Regions from separate parts of the Homo sapiens genome. Here all the other regions are linked to region 2. Evidence: fine-mapped expression QTL. A gene starts in region 2. Each other region holds a variant in brackets. All regions are shown on one strand. Distances are between the middles of the regions. Region 1 has its middle 4.8 kb from the start of PRRT1B. Region 2 holds the start of POMT1 (protein O-mannosyltransferase 1). Region 3 holds the start of LOC105376299 (a long non-coding RNA gene).

Region 1 (5,223 bases), 38 kb after region 2:
CACGCATGTGTGCGTCTGTGTCTGTGTATGAACAGAGAGCATACAAATACCAAGCAAAGAGTGCAAAATGTGAGCCGCTGAGGGGTCTGTGCAAGGGCTACGGGGCGATGATGAGTCCGCTCCTGCCGCCGTCACAAAGTGCTACGGGCCGAGTGGCTTTGACAACAGAAATCTGTTTCCTCAGGGGCCGGGCACGGTGGCTCACGCCTGTAATCCCAGCAGTTTGGGAGGCCGAGGTGGGCGGATCATGAGGTCAGGAGATAGAGACCATCCTGGCTAACACGGTGAAAACCCGTCTCTACTAAAAATATAAAAAATTAGCCGGGCGTGGTGGTGGGCGCCTGTAGTCCCAGCTACTCGGGAGGCTGAGGCAGGAGAATGGTGTGAACCCGGGAGGTGGAGCTTGCAGTGAGCCGAGATCGCGCCACTGCACTCCAGCCTGGGTGACAGAGTGAGACTCCGTCTCAAAAAAGAAATGTATTTCCTCCCTGTTCTGCAGGTTAGAAGTCCAACGTCAAGGTGCAGGGTTGGTTTCCACGGAAGACGGCTGCTCCTCCCTCACTGACTCTTCATGCGGTTGTCACTGTGTCCGCACACCCCTGGGGTCTCTTCCCTCTTCAGCTTTTTTTTTTTTTTTTGAGACGGGGTCTCGCTCTGCCGCCAAGGCTAGAATGCAATGGCGTGATCTCGGCTCACTGCAACCTCCGCCTCCCAGGTTCAAGCGATTCTTCTGCCTCAGCCTCCCGAATAGCTGGGATTACAGGCACCCGCCATCACGCCCGGGGTTTCACCATGTTGGCCAGGCTGGTCTTGAACTCCTGACCTCAGGTGATCCGCCCGCCTCGGCCTCCCAAAGTGCTGGGATTACAGGCATGAGCCACTGTGCCCAGCCCCTTCCTCTTGTTTTTTTTTTTTTTTTTTTTTTTTTGAGACGGAGTCTTGCTCTGTCACCCAGGCTGGAGTGCAGTGGCACAATCTCGGCTCACTGCAACCCCTGCCACCTGGGTTCAAGCGATTCTCCTGCCTCAGCCTCCCGAGTAGCTGGGATTACAGGTGTGCACCACCACGCCTGGCTAATTTTTCTATTTTTAGTAGAGACAGGGTTTCGCTATGTTGCTCAGGTTGGTCTCAAACTCCTGACCTCAGGTAATCTGCCTGCCTCAGCCTCCCAAAGTGTTGGGATTACAGGCGTGAGCCACCGCGCCTGGCCTCTTCCTCTTCTTATAAGGACACCAGTCCTATTCAATTAGGATCCACGCTTATGAGCTCACTTAGCTTTCATCACCTCTGCAGAGGCTCTGTCTCCAAATACAGTCACACACTGAGGCACTGGGGGTTAGGACTTCAACATACGAACATGGCAGGGGACACAATATAGCCCATAACACACCAGGTGACATGGCTCTTCTTTCTACTATTCTTGCAACTTTTTCTATGAGTTTGAAATAATTAATAGAAGCCATTTGAGGAGAAAGCAAAGCAAAAAAACATTAAAGTTGTAGATTTTCATTTTATTTCTATATTTATTTTATGTTTTTAGAGACAGGATCTTGCCCTGTCACCCAGGCTGGAGTGCAGTGGCACGATCATAGCTCATTGCTAACCTCAATTTCCTGGGCTCAAGTGATCCTCCTGCCTCAGCTTCCTGAGTATCTGAGACCGCAGGTGGGTGCCACCACACCTGGCTCATTTTTAAATTTACTTTAGAGAAAGGGCCTTTCTATGTTGCCCAGGCTGGTCTTGAACTCCTGGCCTCAAGCAATCCTCCTGCCTCAGCCTCCCAAGTTGCTGGGATTAAAAATGTTAGCCACTGTGTCTGGCAAAAATTGTAGACTTTTTTAAAGAACCAAGTGAAAATTCTAATCATAAAAAATAAAGACATCAAAATGTTTTGTAGGGGCCTGTTGCAGTGGCTCATGCCTGTAATCCCAGGACTTTAGGAGGCTAGGCAGGCGGATCACTTGGGGCCAGGAGTTAAAGAGTAGGCTGGCCAGCCAGGCACTCATGCTTATAATCCCAGCACTTTGGGAGTCTGAGGCAGGCGGATCATCTGAGGTCAGGATTTCGAGACCAGCCTGGCCAACATGGCAAAACTCCATCTCTACAAAAAATACAATAATTAGCCAGGTGTGGTGGC[A/G]GACACCTGTAATCCCAGCTACTCGGGAGGCTGATGCAGGAGAATTGCTTGAACCCAGGAGGCAGAGGTTGCAGTGAGCTTAGATCATGCCACTGTATTCCAGCCTGGGTGACACAGCTAGACTCTGTCTCAATAAAAAAAAAAAAAAACATCTTTTGTAGAGGCTGGATGCAATAGCTCATACCTGTAATCCCAGCACTTTGAGTAGCCAAGGTGGGTGGATCACTGCAGCCCAGGAGTCAAGACCAGCCTGGGTAACATAGGCACCAAGCCCATCTCTAGTTATTCCTGGTGGTGCTCACCTTGACCACCTGGCTCCAGTGCCGTCGGCCAGGATTCTTGGCTGTAAACTCTCGGATTCACACGAGTGCTGAATTCTGCACATGTGTGGTCCTGAAAGTGAGTAACCCTTACATTTTGCATCTCAGGACCTCACTGGCCTCACCATAGCCCTAGTCATGCTCTTTTCTATTTGTTCTATCTGTGCTTGAATTGATGTTTCCTCTTTTTCTAATTCCTCATGGGTTAATTGAAAATTGTTTATGGTTCCATTTATCTCCTCTATTACATTATTGTTGAGATCTTTTCAATAAAAATCTAGTGATTGCCCTAGGGTTTATGACATATGTATTTAATTAATCTGTTTATCTTCAAATAATGTTATATTGCTGGTGCATAGTGTAATAGCTTTACAGCAGTGCAGCGCCAACCCCTCCCATCACTTGTTCTATTGTGTCACATAATTAATGAATTAATTAATTTTTTGAACAGGGTCCCACTCTGTCTCCCAGGCTGGAATGCAGTGGCTCAATGCGATCTCAGCTCACTGCAGCCTCTGCCTCCCATGCTCAGGTGATCCTCCTACCTCAGCCTCCTAAGTAGCTGGGACTATAGGCACACACCACCATGCCCAGCTAGTTTTTGTATTTTTTGTAGAGACAGGGTTTTGCCATGTTGCCCAGACTGGTCTTGAACTCCTGAGTTCAAGGAATCCACCCGCCTCCGCCTCCCAAAGTGTTGGGATTACAGGCATGAGCCACTGTGCCTAGCCTGATTTATTTTTTAGTATGCTATAAACACAAATAAATTCCTACTATTTTTGCTTTAGCGTTTTTTTGTTTTCCTTTTTTTTTTTTTGAGATGGAGTTTTGCTCTGTCACCCAGGCTGGAGTACAGTGGCATGATCTCAGCTCACTGCAACCTCTGCCTCCTGGGTTTGAGCAATTCTCCTGCCTCAGCCTCCCAAGTAGCTGGGATTACAGGCACCCACCACCATGCCTGTATTTTATTTATTTATTTATTTTTAGAAGAGATGGGGTTTCACCATGTTGGCCAGGCTGGTTTTGAACTCCCAACCTCAAGTGATCTGCTTACCTTGAGCTCCCAAAGTGCTGCAGTTACAGGCATGAGCCACGCACCTGGCCTTTGCTTTAGTTTTTTTATTTCTTCTGCCTGAATGAACTTCCTCTGTTGTTTTTGTTTGTTTTGGATGAGAAATTATTTTTCTTTTTTTTTTTTTTTTTTTGATATGGAGTCTCGCTCTGTCGCCCAGGCTGGAGTGCAGTGGCACAATCTCGGCTCACTGCAAGCTCCACCTCCCGGGTTCACGCCATTCTCCTGCCTCAGCCTCCCGAGTAGCTGGGACCATAGGCACCCGCCACCACACCCGGCTAATTTTTTGTATTTTTAGTAGAGACGGGGTTTCACCGTGTTAGCCAGGATGGTCTTGATCTCTTGACCTCGTGATCCGCCCACCTCTGCCTCCCAAACTGCTGGGATTACAGGCGTGAGCCACCGCACCCGGCCTATTTTTCTTTTTAAAAAAGAATTGTAATAGACTTTATCTTTTTAGAGCAGTTTTAGGTTCACAGAAAAATTGAACTGAAGGTGCAAAGATTTTCCCATATACTCCCTACCCTCACATTCACAGTCTCCCTCATTTTCAACACCCCACACCAGAGTGGTACATTTGTTGCAATCAGTGAACCTATATGGACACACCATTATCACCAGTGTCCATCGCTACATTAGAGCTCACTCTTGCTGTACATTCTATGCATTTGGAAAAATTTATAATAACATGTATTCACCATGATATTATTATTGTTTTTGAGACGGAGTCTCACTCTGTTGCCCAGGCTGGAGTGTGGTGGCATGATCTCGTCTCACTGCAACCTCCACCTCCAGGATTCAAGCAATTCTCCTGCCTCAGCCTCCTAAGTAGCTGGAATTACAGGCACCTGCCACCACGTCTGGCTAATTTTTGTATTTTTGGTAGAGATGGGGTTTTGCCATGTTGACCAGGCTGGTCTCAAACTCCTGACCTCAAATGATCCGCCCACCTCGGCCTCCCAAAGTGCTGGGATTACAGGTATGAGCCACTGCACCCAGCCTATAGTATTATACAGAGTAGTTTCACTGCCCTAAAAATCCTTTCTGCTATTCATCTCTTCCTCTCCCTAACCACTGTTCACCATTGATCTTCCATAGTTTTCCTTTTTCCAGAACATCATCTAGTTGAAATCATACAATATGTAGCCTTTTCAGATTGGCTTCTTTCACTTAGCAATATTCATTTAAGGTCCTTTCATGTCTTTTCATGGCTTGATATTGCAAATTTAAAATGTTTTTGTTTTATTTTTAAAGAGGTTTTTTTTTTTGAGACGGAGTCTTGCTGTCGCCCAGGCTGGAGTGCAGTGGCGCGATCTCGGCTCACTGCAGGCTCCACCCCCAGGGGATCACGCCATTCTCCTGCCTCAGCCTCCCGCATAGCTGGGATTACAGGCGCCCGCCACCTCGCCTGGCTAATTTTTTGTATTTTTAGTAGAGATGGGGTTTCACCGTGTTAGCCAGGATGGTCTCGATCTCCTGACCTCATGATCCACCCGCCTCGGCCTCCCAAAGTGCTGGGATTACAGGCGTGAGCCACCGCACCCGGCCTAAAGAGGTTTTTTTAAATCTTGTTTTTTAATGAATTTTTACTGGGTATAGAATTCTGAGTTGACAGTTTTTTTTTTGTTTTTGTTTTTTCGTCAGTTCAAATACATCACTCATTGTATTCTGGCTAGCATAGTTTCAAACGAGAT
Region 2 (5,223 bases):
AAGGATTTGGGGGTTTTGTTTGGTTCCTGAGAGGGTTGTGTTTTGTTTTTGTTTCCTTTTGTTTATGTTTTGGCCTTTCCTCTTTGTCTTTCCATGTAGACCAGATATTTGAAAGGGCAGACGATGGCTAGAGGTGTAATGTGCAGCTTGTTTATACGGTATTTTGGGAAACTTACCTTGGATGGGAAATCGAATCGTGGATTCACCAGGCCGGTGCTGGCACACTCACCCTCGCCCTTTCCCTCCGGTTCAGTACCTATTGTTTCTCCTTTCAAATATGTGATTGTACTAGCTCTTTCCATATGAAAGAATTCTCCTTATTTAAATAAAAAAAGTTTAAAAAGATAAAGCTGAACGTGCTTTCTCAGGTTGTACATCCCTCGTTTCTTGGTCATTTGACCAGAGAGACCTACAGATCAAAGAATTCTAATTTTACAGAGTTCACACGGAAATTAGGAGTGGCACGGCTGAAATGCCTTAACAGAAGCTGTGTGGGTAGAGAAGGGATTGAAACCCGTGGCTAAGAAGCATCTTCCAAATGCGGCAGCATCAAGCACTCCACCCTCTTCCCACGGATGGCATCTGGTTGTGCACAGTGCCTGCCTGTGGCCCCGTCACTTGCCGTGAGAAACGAGCTGGTCAGAGGAGGTAAGCATTTGATGTGGCGTGTTGTGTTGTCACTTCTAGCGGTGCTTTTGCAGGAAGTGGAGGAGGATTATGCTGTGCTTTGGGGTGGGGAGGGAGCAAGCCAGGCCTGGGGTAGCGAAGGGTAAAAGGTAAGAATGGGCTGAGGCAGCAGTTCTCGGTTTTGCCATTGCCTCACTGACCTGGGGAAAGACGTTTCACCACCTGAGTCAGTCTCCTTAATCATAAAACACAGATTGTAATGGTATCGACCTCATGGCGTAGTGTGGATTCAAAGTCACCAGTAGCTTTTAGCTTAGTGCCTAGAACCAGCTAAGAAAACTTATAAATTACCCCCAAGAAATAAAACGCTGTTTCCATGAGGAACCCCAGTCCCTCAACTTCCTTCTAAGCCTTTTGACTATGGAAGAGAGTTGGGGACCTGGCCATGGGCATCTCAGCTTTAACTAGCCACACTCACTGCCCTGATTTACTGCTCCCTAGGGACAGGTGGCTCACAAAATCTCAAACGGAGACCAGCCCTGAAAGAGGCTAGTCCTAAGGTTGGGGGCTTGCAAGATGGAGGCTGTAAGTCCTGAGGCACCACCACTGTTAGCATGGCATGAACCAAAGCTTAACAGCCCAGCCCCACTCCCTCCTGGGGCCCAGGGAACCCTCCCTGCCCACTGTAAATACAGTTGCCTGCAGGCTCTGGCCACAAACCCAGGTGAGCCCCAGCTCCTTGCCTCTCTGTGGGATCTTGGGTGAGTCACATAACCCCTCAAGGGTAAGCCATAAAGAAGTAACCACGAAATTCTAACTGGTGTCATCTAATGCTATGTTGCCCAACATGGAAAAAAAGTCTTGCAGGCAGCCAAGAACCATAATGAAGGTTATTAAACCTGCAGTGTGCCCTTTTGGTCTGTATAGATTAACATACAAATAGACCAGGAGATCAAGAAGGAGCGAGGCTGAGAAGAGTGATCCATCAGCCTGGTTGCGTTGCTGTCAGTTACCCTGCTCTGGGTGCCGACTGTTCAGGGAAAACATGGGAAGGGGTGCATTGACCCAACCAAAAGTACCATGTCTGCTCCAAAGCAGGCCTTTGGGAAGGCTCTTGACCCTCAGCAGAGGGGGCTGGAGAGGCTGATGGATGAGGAGGAGCCCTGGGAATGGAGGAAGAAGCCTCCAGTCTTCTGCCACGGAGTTTAGGGGAGATGCCCCCACTGGAGCCTCTGATGGTCATGCAGCCCCCACTGATGTCCAGGTTTTTTTGGTTTTGTTTTTTGTTTTGAGACGGTCTCACTTTGTAGTCCAGGCTGGAGTGCAGTGGTGAGACCAAGGCTCACTGCAGCCTCGACCTCTCTGCCCCAAGTGATCTCCTGCCTCAGCCTCCCTTGTAGCTGGGACTGCAGGCAGACGCCAAGGGGCCCCGCTAATTTTTGTATTTTTTTGTAGAGACGGGGTCTCGCTGTGTTGCCCAGGCTCTCCTGGACTCAAGCGGGCTCACGGATCCTCCCACCTCGGCCACCCAAAGTGCTGGGGTTACAGGCGTGAGCCACCGCCCCCGGCCCTAGGTCCGTTTTAAATGCCCTTACCCTCAGCCACTTCACCGCTAGATGTATGTGCAAGCAGGATCGTGGCATCGATGTTTTTCGGCAAGGAAACTAGGAGCGCCCGCGGGCGTGGGGGCACGTGCCTGTGGTCTCAGCTGCTCTGGAGGCCGAGGAGGGAGGATCGCTTCGGGCAGAGAGGTCGAGGCTGCAGCAAGCCGTGGTCCTGCCACTGTACTCCAGCCTGGGCGACAGAGCGAGACCCCGTGTCTTAAAAAAAAAATTAAGGTCGGACGCAGTGGCTCACGCCTGTAATCCCAGCACTTTGGGAGGCCGAGGTGGGCGGATCACTTCAGGTCAGGAGTTCGAGACCAGCCTGGCCAACATGGTGAAACCCTGTCTCTACTACAAATACAAAAATTAACCGGGCGTGGTGGCGTGCGCCTTCAATCTCAGCTACTCGGGAGGCTGAGGCAGGAGAATCGCTTGAACCCGGGAAGCGGAGGTTGCGGTGAGCCGAGATCGCGCCATTGCACTCCAGCCTGGGCAACAAGAGCGAAACTCCGTCTCAAAAAAAAAGAAAAGAAAAGAAAAGAAAAAAACTAGGAGCAAACTGGCGCGCCCGGCAGAACGCCGTTGTGCAGACGCAGAATTAAGATCTTCACGCCAGATGGAGTGAAAAAGCAAGGAGCAGAAGATGGGTGGGAGCCCACTGCGCTTTTTAAAATCTGCACGTCTGCTTAGAGTACACAGAAATCCTGGCACACAAAACAGTAGCACCCGAGAGAGGGGAGGTCGCCGCGTTTCACACCTGCCTCTCCTCCGGGACCGGCGCCCTCGCCCGCTGCGCACGCGCGTCACCCTCTCCCAGTGCGCACGCGCGCTGCTGCCCGTCTGGCCCCGCAGGCTCGGTGAATCGAACGTTGAGCAGGGCGGTGGGTGGTGCGGAGTGCCGAGCGGCCTCACCCCCAACCGTCGGCCCAGTCGGACGGTTCCGAGGCGTTGCCGGGAGCCGGGCGCGGCTCTGTGTGGACTCGGAGAAACGCGGGTACATTTGGGGACACCGGGGACGAGAGCCCAGCCCGGACTTGGGGGAGTCCGTCAGTGCCGGACGCGGGTCCCTGGCTTGCGGACGGGCTGGGGCCGGGGGCGTCCCCGTCTTTCCGGAGCTGGGGGCGGGGTTCGGGCCCGGGCAGATGCGGCGTTCGGGCGGCCGAGCCCCGAAGTAAGAACTCCGTGGCGCGTGCAGCCCTAGGGAGGAAGGGCGTGCTGCGGGTGCAGTCTCAGGGTGAGGACGGAGCTGGGGCCGACGCAGCCTCGGGAGTTGGTGGACGGGACAGGTGCGGCCTGTGGGGAAGAAGGGCCGGCCAGGGAGATGCGGTCTGCAAGGGGAGAGGAGGCACTCCCAGGACAGATGGGACCTTTTGGGACGAAGGCGCTCAAGGCAGATGCAGCTCAGGGAGGGAAGGGCGCGTCCAGGGTAGATGGGGCCTGAGGAGACCAGCGGGGCGCCAACGGCCAGATGCGGCTTTGGTGTGAGACAGGGTGTCCCAGGCCTGATGCAGCCTCAAGAGAAGCGGAGCTCAAGGGAAGATGAAGCCTGGAGGAGAACGTGGGGGCGCAGGGTGCAAATGCACCCTCCAGGCGAGAAAGGGAGCACCCGGGGATGATGTGCCGCTGGGATAGAAGGCAGGGAGGCACTGGGGGCAGATGCATCCTTGAGGAGAGATGAGGAGGCCCCGAGGCTCGGCCAGGTTGGGGTCCCTGGGCTGTAAGCAGCTGAGATGGCACCCAGGAGCTGCCCAGGGTCAGGTAGCTGTGGCCGCACTGTGGGCTTCTGGTCGTCGGGGAGGGAGGGGAGAAACCCTGGCGTTCCTTAGCAGTGTTCTCGCGCCCAAGACGTGCTCGGCAGGTTTTGTGGAATGAGTTGTTGAAAGGAGTGAATGTCCAGTCCTGAGATCCCCTGAATTCCCACCCGAGTTCACTGCTAGTGCCCCTCACCCCACATGTCTACCTGAACCAAGGCTCCAGGAACTTCGGTCTTTCTCAGCAGCCCGGCTGTGCTGTGGTTCTCCTCGTGTGTCCGGGAGCCGGGTGGCTGGGGATCCCTTCTGTAGCCTCTCGTGAGCCCTCATGGACCACGGCTCCTCCCTTCTTTTCTAGGGCGTCTGCCTGAGCCCGCTTTTCTACAAGATGTGGGGATTTTTGAAGCGCCCTGTAGTGGTGACGGCTGACATCAACTTGAGCCTTGTGGCCCTGACTGGGATGGGGTTACTGAGCCGGCTGTGGCGACTCACCTACCCGCGGGCTGTGGTGTAAGCTAAATGACTCCATTCCCAGGGTGAATCTAGAATTGTACTTTGTGACAGGAGGCGCCCTTACTGAATAGCATAAATGGGAGAGTGAAATCCTGGCTTCTTGGTGATAGGTGTTTTTGGCAGTGAGAGGAGAGACCAGTCTGTCCCCAGGACAGCCCCAGCAGAGTACACCTTTTAGGTCTTGCCTTCTGAGTCTGTAACAGGTGAAATTTGGCCCATTAAAGGGGTGCAGTAGAGGAAAATCTGGTTGCCAGCCTTAAGTAACAGTTTTAAAGTCTGGACGGCAGAGGATTAATGGATTTGGAAGTAAGTCTTCACTGTTGAGAGCACTTTTTAGAATGTGTTTTTGTCATAATGGGAAGTGATTGCTGTTATTATTGAAGGGCTCTTTATTAACTGATTAATGTGTGTATGTGTGTGTGTGTGTGTGTGTGTGTGTGTGTGTGTGTTTTTGAGACGGAGTCTTGCTGTGTCGCCCAGGTTGGAGTGCAGTGGTGCCATCTCGGCTCACTGCAACCTCTGCCTCCTGGGTTCAAGCAATTCTCTGCCTCAGCCTCCCGAGTAGCTGAGATTACAGGTGCCCGCCACCACACCCAGCTAATTTTTGTATTTTTAGTAGAGACGGGATTTCACCATCTTGGCCAGGCTGGTATTGAACTCCTGACCTCATGATCCACCCACCTGGGTCTCCCAAAGTGTTAGGATTACAGGCGTGAGCCACTCCGCCC
Region 3 (5,223 bases), 180 kb before region 2:
GGAGTTTATGACGTTAAAACGAGGCTGTCAGGGTGGGCCCTGATCCAATCTGACTGGTGTCCTTCTAAGTAGAGGAAACTTGGTCACACAAAGAGACACCAGGGATGCACAAGCACAGGGGAAATGGCTTGTGAGGACACGGCGAGAAGGCAGCCATCTGCAAGCCACGGAGAGAGGCCTCAGGTGAAACCAAACCTGCTGAACTTTGATCTTGGACTTCCAACCTCCAGAGCTGTGAGAAAATAAAATTTCTGTTGTGTGAGCCACACAGTCTATGGGATTGTATTATGACAGCCCTGGGAAACGAAACACTCCTCTCAGCTTGTTCACCATCTGATGTGTTCCCTGCGCATGCCCAGCCCCACAGTCCGCCCTTCCTTTGTCAGGGATCTGAGGTGTGCAGAGCCCCACACCTGTGCCGGTCAGCAGCTGCCATGTAGATAGTGGGACCCTGATGCTGCACAGAAGGTCCCTGGAAGCAGGTGGCCCCTCTCAGGATGCGTAGAATACAGCAAAGGCTTTAATTATTTTTTTTAAATACAGAAGCTCAGGTCCCACCTGAAGAGGTTTGGGTGTAATTGGTGTGGGGCGTGGGCTCCTCACGGGGATTGTTTTCCAAGCTTCCCAGGTGATTTCAGTACAGCCAAAGTTAAGAATCGATCCTGGAGCCGGGCACGGTGCCTCATGCCTGTAATCCCCGCACTTTGGGAGGCTGAGGAGGGTGGATCACGAGGTCAGGAGATCGAGATCATCCTGGCTAACACGGTGAAACCCCGTCTCTACTAAAAGTACAAAAAAATTAGCCGGGCGTGGTGGCGGGTGCCTGTAGTCCCAGCTACTCGGGAGGCTGAGGCAGGAGAATGGCATGAACCCGGGAGGCGAAGCTTGCAGTGAGCCGTGATCCTACCACTGTACTCCAGCCTGGGCAACAGAGCGAGACTCCGTCTCAAAAAAAAAAAAAAAAAGAATCAATCCTGGGCCAGGTAAGCCAGCTCACACCTATGATCCCAGCACTTTAGGGGGCCAAAGCCGGAGGGTCCCTTGAGTCCAGGAGTTCAAGACCAGCCTGGGAAATATAATTAGACTCATAGCAAGATCATGCAGCTGCAGTCAGCCATGATGGTGCCACTGCACCCCAGCATGAGCAACATGGCAAGACCCCATTTCTACTAAAAATCAAAACATAGCCCAGCATGGCGGCATGCACCTACAGTCCCAGCTACTCAGGAGGCTGAGGTAGGAGGATTGCTTGAACCCAGGAAGTTGAGGCTGCAGTGAGCCATGAATGCACCACTGCACTCCAGCCTGGGTGACAGAGCAAGACTCTGTCTCAAAAAAACAAAAAACAAGAATCAACCTAACCTCCAGGCCCCTCAGGTGGAAAGGCCAAGGGAATCCATCCAGGTATAGCCCAAGGCTCTGAGTCCGGGAAAGGATGGGGTAGTTTGTAGGGCAAAGGTCCTTCTGCCTCTGACCTGGTTCCTGGATAGCTTTGCCAAGAGGGGCCAGGTCAGGTCTCTCACGGGAGGGATCAGCAGCCCCTCACTCTTCAATGATCACATTCAAAATCTACGTGGGGGGTTGTGTTGAGATCTCAAAGGGGAGAAGGAGGAAGCCTCCATGCACTCCAGGGGGAACGGAGACCCTCAACCTTGTTCCATCTCCCCTTCCTTCCTGCCCCAAACCCAAGCAGCTGCAACATTCCACTCCACGCCCAGCAGGCACGGGGTCCGGCTAGGATTCTGTTTCTTGGGAGAGACGGGCCACGGGACTGCGTCCTGGTTTTCAGGGGCCTGGGGCGCCTGACTCTACCACCCGCGCTGTGGAGGCCGAGGCAAGGCTCGCCTGCAGATATGGGCTTGTGTTTGTTCTGTTCCTGGAAGACATGCGCTGCCACCGAGTCACTGGGCTTTTGACTCAGCTGTGTTTCCTCCTGCAGATGAACCCAAACCCAGGCTTTGGAGTCAGCAGAGCCAGCTGGGGCATCAGCCTCCCACTGGCGTCTGTGTGACTTTGGGCAATTCTCTTGACCTCTCTGAGCTTCGGTTTTCGGTCTCTCTGAAATGGGAGGAACCAACTAGACCAGCGTCTCAATCCCTGGACTCAAGCCTTGGACATCTCAAGTGGGTGAGTCCTTTCCCTTTTTGGCTGCAGAGTTGGAGCTGGGCTTCGGTTACTTGTAACCAGCACAGCTGAGTGCAGGTGGGTTGCTCTCTGCAAATGGCTGTGGAAATGAAGTGTATGAGCTTTAACCAGGGTGGGACTCAGAGGGCTCATGGGGTAACGGGCTGTTCCCCACTCCACACCCAGGAAAGGGGAAAGCCCAGTGGCCCCTTGCATTCTGGCTTCAAGTCCCTGCACAAAGCACAGTAAGAATAGCTCCCACTGATGGGAGCCCACTAGGCCATTGTTGACACTTCCCCGAACTCTCCAAGTGGGCTGTTATCATCTCGGCTCGCTAAGCAGAGTCAGGAGGTGGCTGAGCTGCAATTCTTGCTAAGAGACCACAGAGGTCCAGAAGTGGATTAATCATAATCTTTGGGTCATCACAACTCTCATTAATGAGCCATGCTGCTTTAGGTGTTTGCTTTTAAGATGGTTTTTTTGGCTCACGCCTGTAATCCCAGCACTTTGGGAGGCCGAGGTGGGTGGATCATGAGGTCAGGAGATCAAGACCAAGGTGAAACCCCGTCTCTACTAAAAATACAAAAAATTAGCTGGGTGTGGTGGCGGGCGCCTGTAGTCCCAGCTACTCGGGAGGCTGAGGCAGGAGAATGGCGTGAACCCGGGAGGCGGAGCTTGCAGTGAGCCGAGATTGCGCCACTGCACTCCAGCCTGGGCAACAGAGTGAGACTCCGTCTCAAAAAAAAAAAAAAAAAAGATGGTTTTTTGTGCTTTTTTTTTTTAAGAGATGAGGT[C/T]TCCCCCTGTCACCCCTGCTGGAGTGCAGTGACACGATCCTAGTTCACTGCAATCTCAAACTCCTGGGCTCAAGCAATCCCCTGACCTCAGCCTCCCGAGAAGCTACATTGAGTCTCTAGATCAGTTTATGAAGAACTGACATCTCTGTAATATCAGGCTTTCCTGTCCTTAAGAATGGGTTATCTCGGCCGGGCGTGGTGGCTCATGCCTGTAATCCCAGCACTTTGGGAGGCCGAGGTGGGTGGATCACGAGGTCAGGAGTTCAAGACCAGCCTGGTCAAGATGGTGAAACCTCGTCTCTACTAAAAATACAAAAAAATTAGCCAGCCGTGGTGGCAGGCGTCTGTAATCCCAGCTACTCAGGAGGCTGAGGCAGAGAATTGCTTGAACCCAGGAGGTGGAGGTATAATTGCCTGCCTAATTCTTGCCTACGTTTCATTATACTTATTCTTAGGTACTTATTATAATTTTCATACTCTTGTGAACATTATCCTTTTTTTTTCAAGGATATTTTCCAATTGTTTCTTCCTGGTATACAGAAATGAAATTAGTTTTTGTATATTTTTCTTATATCTAGGTATCTTGCCAAACTCTCCCTCTGGGGTTCCATATAGCTGGTAGTATCTGAAAATAATGTGTTTTATTTTCTCTTTCCCAATCCTTATGTTTCGAATTTATTTTTTCTAGTCTTAATGTTAGAGTGGAAGCTCCAATACTCTGTTGAACAGAAGTGATAATAGCAAACAGAACATTCTTGTTTCCAGTCTCAGAAGGAATGCTGCTAATGTTTATCCTCCCATTTCCGACTTGCCAAGAGGCTTAATCACAAATTTATGTGAACTTCTAAAAATACTTCCTCAGCATCTATTAAAATGATCCTGTAGTTTTTCCTCCTTTCATCAGTTAATACGATAAGTAACACTGATAGACTTTTCTTTTTTTTTTTTTTTGAGACGGAGTCTTGCTCTGTCACCCAGGCTGGAGTGCAGTTGCACCATCACAGCCCACTGCAGCCTCAAACTCCTTGACTCAAATGTTCCTCCCACTTCAGCCTCCCAGGTAGCTAGGGTTACACGAGCATGCCACCATTCCAGGCTAATTTTTTTTTTTTCATTTTTTTAGAGACAGGAGTTTCACTGTGTTGCCCAGGCTGGTCTCAAACTCCTGGCCTCAAGCAGACCTCCCACCTCAGCATCCCAAAGTGCTGGGATTACTTGGTGTGAACCACCATGCCTGGCCCCACCCTTTCTATTATTGATAATGCTTTTAAAGTATAAGACAACTTTGCCTCATATCAAAATATATCTTTATATCTTTTTATATATATATATAATAGATAGATAGATAGATAGATAGATAGATAGATAGATAGGCTAGGCGTGGTAACTCACGCCTGTAATCCCAGCATTTTGGGAGGTTAAACGGGCAGATCACTTAAACTCAGGAGTTGGAGAGCAGCCTGGGCAACATGGTGAAACTATGTCTCTGAAAATTATTTTTAACCTTTTTGGATCCTTAAATTTTTGGTGAGCTCTCTTTTTGTGTGTGTGCAGATCTCTTTTAAGCTTCATCAATCTGGAATTTTTTTTTCCTACCCAGTCTCTGAATCTCTTACTTATTGATTTACAGACAGGGTCTCAGTCTGCCACCCAGGCTGGAGTGCGATGGTGCAATCACAGCTCACTGCAGCCTCCACCTCCCACTTCAGTCCCCTCTGTGCCTGGGACGACAGGCATGCACCACCATGCCTGGCTAATTTTTGGGTTTTTTGTTTGTTTTGTTTTGTTTGAGACAGGGTCTAGTTCTGCCACTCAGGCTGGAGTGCAGTGGCGTGACACAGCTCACTACAACTTCTGCCTCCTGGGCTCAAGCAATCCTCCCATCTTGCCTCCCGCGTAGCTGGGACTACAGGCATGCGCCACCACACCCAGCTAACTTTTGCAATTTTTGTAGAGACAGCGTTTTGCCATGTTGCCCAGGCTGGTCTCGAACTTGTGAGCTCAAGCAATTCACCCGCCTCAGCCTCCCAAAGTGCTGGGATTACAGGCATGAGCCCCCATGCCCAACCAGTTTTTTGGTTTTTGTTTTGAGACAAGGTCTAGTTCTGTCACTTAGGCTGGAGTGCAGTGGCATGACACAGCTCACTGCAATTTCTGCCTCCTGGGCTCAAGCAATCCTCCCGTCTTGCCTCCCACGTAGCTGGGACTACAGGCATGCACCACCACACCCAGCTAATTTTTGCAATTTTTGTAGAGACGGCATTTTGCCATGTTGCCCAGGCTGGTCTCAAACTCGTCAGCTCAA

What was found. PIP is the estimated chance that this variant, and not a neighbour inherited with it, causes the effect.
Region 1: its variant is fine-mapped to the expression of POMT1 in whole blood (TOPMed, PIP above 0.99).
Region 3: its variant is fine-mapped to the expression of POMT1 in whole blood (INTERVAL, PIP 0.98).

What each region holds. Positions count from the first base shown.
Region 1 is chr9:131,538,094-131,543,316 of GRCh38, forward strand. No RefSeq gene overlaps it. Among named protein-coding and RNA genes, the nearest start is that of PRRT1B, 4.8 kb to the right of the region's middle. The variant A/G (reference allele first, on the strand shown) is at 2,138.
Region 2 is chr9:131,499,849-131,505,071 of GRCh38, forward strand. It overlaps POMT1 (protein O-mannosyltransferase 1), which reads left to right and starts at 3,070. Exons shown (of 20, transcript NM_001077365.2): 1 at 3,070-3,225; 2 at 4,341-4,492. The coding sequence starts at 4,371. It overlaps PRRC2B (proline rich coiled-coil 2B), which reads left to right. Exons shown (of 32, transcript NM_013318.4): 32 at 1-345. It also overlaps the pseudogene LOC124902290. RefSeq lists enhancers at 168-1,367, 2,856-3,723, 3,724-4,589, 3,961-4,020, 4,501-4,580 and 1 more and silencers at 2,971-3,170, 3,241-3,390.
Region 3 is chr9:131,323,513-131,328,735 of GRCh38, forward strand. It overlaps LOC105376299 (a long non-coding RNA gene), which reads left to right and starts at 1,358. Exons shown (of 4, transcript XR_001746959.3): 1 at 1,358-2,127. The variant C/T (reference allele first, on the strand shown) is at 2,919.